Linked DNA regions of Homo sapiens: region 2 is linked to region 1. Evidence: fine-mapped expression QTL. A gene starts in region 1. The other region holds a variant in brackets. All regions are shown on one strand. Distances are from middle to middle. Region 1 holds the start of WDR19 (WD repeat domain 19). Region 2 has its middle 5.9 kb from the start of TMEM156.

Region 1 (2,914 bases):
CTTCTAATATTTCATAAATTGTAAAGAGCTTTAGAAATAAAAATGGGAGTTATGATTACTGGTCCGTCAATTCCAATTTCCACACTAATAGCCACGAAGAAGCATGAGGACATCTAAAATAATTTTAAAATTGAGCCTTCCAGCCGGGCGCGGTGGCTCACGCCTGTAATCTCAGCACTTTGGGAGCCCGAGGTCGGGGGATCATGAGGTCAGGAGAGTGACAGCATCCTGGCTAACACGGTGAAACCCCATCTCTACTAAAAATACAAAAAATTAGCTGGGTGTGGTGGCACGCGCCTGTAGTCCCAGCTACTCGGGGGGCTGAGGCAGGAGAATCGCTTGAACCCAGGAGGTGGAGGTTGCAGGGAGCAGAGATTGCGCCACTGCACTCCAGCCTGGGTAACAGAGCGAGACTCAGTAAAAAAAAAAAAAAAAAAAAGCCTTCCATTTCTTTGCCAGAGCAGAGCAAGGGGGGACTGCTCTGATAAATCAGAAAGTGGGGTGAACAAGAAGCCCAAGCCTAGAAACCGTGCGTGCAGAGGATGAGGCACATGAGCGTGAGACCTGAGTTTTCGGGTGCAGATTTCCCGTCAATAATGTACACTCGCTAGCAGGTGATTGGACTGGTCACAGGTAATACATTTTGAAGTTATTCTTTAGGAGGCTTTTCATTCTTTTTAAGGCGCTGGGCAGCTGCGCGGCTTGCCAGAGGCTTAGCCCCAAGAAATGAGGTAGCTCGTGACATCGGACCCAGTCAACTTCACAGCGACCCTCCAAACGCGTTAACTCGACCAGTTCTTTCCGCGTGCGAAGCTGGGGTATCTTTAGATCCAGTCCGCTCATTTCGGCCAGGGAGGGGTTCCCACTTTCTGCACCGCTTCTACGGCGTCTGCAGTCCCCAAAACGAGAGGCCTCTCTCTCCGCCCTCTCCTCTCCTCCTATTTTCTTTCCTTTCTCTCGTCCCTTCAGCTTCGCCCCCGCTCTCTCTGGCCACCTCTCTCTCTCTCTCTCTTCCTCATTTCCAACGAACTCAGAAGGGAGAGGGACAGATATCCTCTTTTAAAAGCGACCAAGGGCCAGTAGTCGCGTTTTCCCGCCCCACCCCGGGAATTTGTAAGTTATTTACCTTCATCTCCACGCTCGAGCCGCTACGCGAACTATGAAGTACGCAGGCGCACCCGGTCTCCACCAAGCAGGCTACCGCGTTCCCGTCACCCAGGAGACCGCGCGAGCAGCGACCAATCAGCGAGTGCTAATTGAAAGGCGGTGCCTCGAGGGGCCGGGCCAAGCGCACCGCCCTCTGCGAGGGTGGGTGAGAGGCGGAGGGTGGAATCACATGACATCAGAGACGCTAACCCTGGGAAGTTGGGCGTCGCGAGGCCTTGCTGAGCCTCGGCTTCCTGGCTGGCTCTGATTGGATGAGATTCGTCCGGGAGAGACGGGCTCTGTGAGCCCTCAAAGGCGCGTGCGTAAATTTTGGACCGCGATGACTAAGATGTCAGTGCTGGCCAAAGGGGGCGCCGAGAAGCTGAAGGAAAGAAGACGCAGAATGTTAGATTAAAGGAGGCAGGATGGGCTAAATACTCCTATACAGTCCACGCAAAGAGGGGTTGGACGAGCTCGGGTATATCTTTTTTTCTTCCAGGTTTCTGGGGTAGAAGGGAGGAGGCATAAGAGGTACAATAGTTTATTTCAAGGTAGGGTTGTTGGTGCTTTTTTTTTTTCAGTTTCACCAAAATCTTTTTTTTTTTTCAATGTCAACAAAATGTGCTAGCTAACGTGGGCAGGAAAAATGAGCTCCAATAGTTTTCCTTTAGAGTTTGGATCTGGCAGCTTTTCCCCAAGTATAAAGCCCTGTTGTACAGTATTTGTGCTGCATTATTTATAGCATGAAAGTGCATCTTTTACCCAAGCGTCTGAAAGTGTTGAAACAGTCTACCTTTTGCTTTTCTTTTCGACATCAGGTAGGAATCTGATTGGCTTAGAGAAAGTTAATCAATGATTTGAAATAACTAATAATGAATGTTTGCAAATTCTTAAGTAGGGTGCTATGCCTTTGCACTGGGGTTTTCAGTTACGTTACGACAGGGGTCCGGATCCAGACCCCAAGAGAGGGTTCTTGGATCGCGCGCAAGAAAGAATTCAGGGCGAGTTCTCAGTGCTGAGAAAAGCAAGTTTATTAAAACACGTAAAGTGGTGAAAGGACAGCTACTCCATAGACAGAGTAGGACATTCCTGAAAGCAAGAGAAGGGACGCATCCACCCTAGGTACAATGCTTGTATATATGGGGAGATGTGCTCTGCTACAAGGGTTTGTGATCAAAGATTAATTTTCTTAATTATTTTGCAGGAATTGATATTATTATCTTTAAAGCAAAATTAGGAATGCCTTTGTTCTCCAGATATCCCGATATCTGGGTCTGTTTTAGTAAACATTATTAATTTATTCCCTTAATCGTAAACATCTAGAGGCGAGGAATGCCCAAATTCTGAGAATTCAGCCCAGCAAGTCTCAGCCTCATTTTCCTAGCCCTCACTCAAAATGGAATCGCTCTGGTTCAAACGCCTCTGACAGTTAGGTTAATTACTTAAATTTTTACTGAAAGATTCCTCTGCTGAAAGGGTAACCATTTAAAAATAGCCAGAGCAATCAGTTCTTAACAAGACCTGCCCTCAGGAGAAAGTATTTTTACCAAAGCCTAGTCTGCTGGGGTTTTATCAGAGCCTAAACTACCTGGGAGAAGGGAAATACTCAACTTCAGCCTCCATAAACCATCCTGTTCCACTTAAGTGTGGGAGATTAAGAAGTATTGGCGGGCGCCTGTAGTCCCAGCTACGCGGGAGGCTGAGGCCGGAGAACGGCGTGAACCCGGGAGGCGGAGCTTGCAGTGAGCGGAGATCGCGCCACTGCACT
Region 2 (2,914 bases), 140 kb after region 1:
AAATTTAATTCTGTTCATCCCTCAGGACCGTGTTTAACATGCTTTAGTGACTATTGCTTTAAAAGTAAAGTTCAAACACCTTAGCATTGTTGTAAGGTCCTTTGTAATCTAACCCCTATCTACCTATTTAGCCCTATGTCCATTCTGAACTATTTGCAGCATCGAGAACATATCATTTATCCCACAGCTGTGCTTTTAAATAAGTTTCCTCCTTCTGAAATACCCTGCTTTCCAATATCTGCTAGCCCTCAAGACTCAGCTCCAGGGTCACCTCCTCTGGTGATCTTTATCCTGAACTTTCCAAGCTGAACGAGTTCCTTCTTCGTACCCCCAAAGTACACTGGATGCCCCTTTCATTGTAGCAGTTACTCAATGGGCTGTGAATATTGGCTTAGTTGTCTATCTCCTTGACTAGCTGAGAGGTCTTTGATGGCAGGCACTCAGAAATATTTCTGAATGAATGAGTGAATGAATGAATGAATGAATGAAATCCACCCTCCCCCTGCATATGAAGCCTTTACAAACAAAAACTTACTTGAGTATGGCCATTTTTCCACTGAGTGTTATAACATATACAGACAGGACCTTTCCTCTATAGTGTTTTACTACGAGTTTCATTAAACTTTAGAAGGTCATTAACTTAGGATTTCAGAAACTTACAAGGACAAGGTTATGAACACAAAGTTCTTGTATTTATTTCCATGCATTGAAAAAATTATTTCATACTTTCATGTATTAAAAAATTATTTCAGCATCTCTATATAATTATTTTACATTTTGAAAATAACAGTTGCAAGACTACTAATTGATGTTGATGTCTCATGAGTTAAAAATGTTCCAGGATGGGCCGGGCGCGGTGGCTCATGCCTGTAATCCCAGCACTTTGGGAGGCCAAGGTGGGTGGATCATGAGGTCAGGAGATCGAGACCATCCTGACTAACACAGTGAAACCCCTTCTGTACTAAAAATACAAAAAAAAAAAATTAGCCAGGCATGGTGGCGGGTGCCTGTAGTCCCAGCTGCTCGGGAGGCTGAGGCAGGAGAATGGTGTGGAGGGAGGAGAATGGTGTGAACCCAGGAGGAGGAGCTTGCAGTGAGCCGAGATCGTGCCACTGCACTCCAGCCTGGGCGACACAGGGAGACTCCGTCTAAAAAAAAAAAAAAA[G/AG]TTCCAGGATGAATCTTTGTATTTGATATATTACTTCCTGATTCACTAACAGAATGGAACTACTCAATCTGACTTCTGTTTTCATGTTGTGAGAGAATAAGTTCATAACCGCTATACAAGTTTAAGCATTTAGGTTTGTTACTGTGCTGACAGTTTGTGTACAGAAATCACAAAATATTTACCAAATATTATAAAGAGGGCTACAGCATAGAAAACACTGCTACTTGTTATGAGGGAGAGAATGAATAAAGATGAATCAGATATGTAAACTGCAAAGTTCTTATCAACTATTAAGCTTCTTCTAGCTCCATCTTGTTCATCTTTGTAAAAGCACATATTCCTGTATTCACACCTGCATTCTATATTCAGTGACTATACTTAGCACAGAATTCTTGGGGAAAGATTCTAGCTAAGTAACAAGCAGCTGACCTGAAATACACAAACAGTGAGTGAATAGAGGGTGGCACTCTCTGTACACATTTGAAGACATTCAGAGTCAACGGGCTAAGCAATACAAAGAAGGAAGAAAAAAACAAACAGACAAAAAAAAACAAAACCAAGCATTTCATTCTCCTCTGCTCTATCCCCAAGAAAACCAAGAAATGGTATTACTTAGAGTCGGACGGGCTCTCTTGTTGCAGCCAGTTCTTTTTATCTGAGACTGGATCTATTAGGCCTGATACTTTCAGACTCTGAGCAATTTATTTTACTTTATCTCGTACATATTCAATGGTTGTTATATTTACCATCATGAAGAATGTTTTGGTTATGCTTTCCTGCCTGTTTATGCATGTAATTAACAATATAATGAATTCTGTGGTTCGGTTGCCAGACTTTGTTTCCAGAGGCTGAAATATACCACAGTGGTTCCAGAATCCATTCCAGGGTGGTTTTCCCTCCTTGTCCCCGCAACTCTGTGAGTATACAGCTGGGCAGACAAGCCTGACTCATAGTTCTTTTGAGGAAAGAGGCTCCAACAGGTTCTTTCCTGTCTAAGCTGCAGTCTCAGTGCAGGGGGTTTTGTTAGTGAAAACAAACTGCCTTTCCAGCCACAGGTGATTGGGGTCAGGACACAATGGGCCAAGCAGCCCTGTGTGGGCTGCGCATGAGAAGACCAGCCACGTCTCAGGAGGCCTGAGTGTGAGGGCCTGGGGCAAACTCTGCCCACTGAGGATTCTAAACCCGGTGGTGGCAGGTCAAACCATATTTCCCCACTTACAGGAGAAATGCACTGAGTGGGCCAGGCGCAGTGGCTCATGCCTGTAATCCCAGCACTTTGGGAGGCCGAGGCAGGTGGATCACCTGAGGTCAGGAGTTTAAGACCAGCCTGGCCCACATGATGAAACCCCGTCTCTACTAAAAATACAAAAATTAGCCAGGCGTGGTGGCGCACGCCTGTAATCCCAGCTACTCCGGAGGCTGAGGCAGGAGAATCACCTGAACCTGGAAGGCGGAGGTTGCAGGGAGCTGAGATCACGCTCACTGCAACAAGAGCGAAACTCCATCTCAAAAAAAACAAAATAATAATGATAAAAAAGAAATGCACTGAGTGAACAAAGATAAGGCAGCTCAGTGACCCGCAGCCTGGGGTCTGAGCAGTGCTGAGCACCTTTTCCGGTTCTCTGAGGGGCTGACTCAACCTGGCTGTTGAAGGGGTGACCTCCTGTGTGCACTCATGTCATGGAGTTCTTTGCCGCAACCTTGCCACAGCCACTGAAGGTACCACTGCTGTCTCCTGTTGGCCTGCTC

What was found. PIP is the estimated chance that this variant, and not a neighbour inherited with it, causes the effect.
Region 2: its variant is fine-mapped to the expression of WDR19 in whole blood (INTERVAL, PIP 0.95).

The regions. Positions count from the first base shown.
Region 1 is chr4:39,180,776-39,183,689 of GRCh38, reverse strand. It overlaps WDR19 (WD repeat domain 19), which reads right to left and starts at 1,161. Exons shown (of 37, transcript NM_025132.4): 1 at 1,127-1,161. The coding sequence starts at 1,132. RefSeq lists enhancers at 123-192, 893-1,042, 1,167-1,461, 1,313-1,492.
Region 2 is chr4:39,036,892-39,039,805 of GRCh38, reverse strand. No RefSeq gene overlaps it. Among named protein-coding and RNA genes, the nearest start is that of TMEM156, 5.9 kb to the right of the region's middle. RefSeq lists an enhancer at 2,350-2,879. The variant G/AG (reference allele first, on the strand shown) is at 1,166.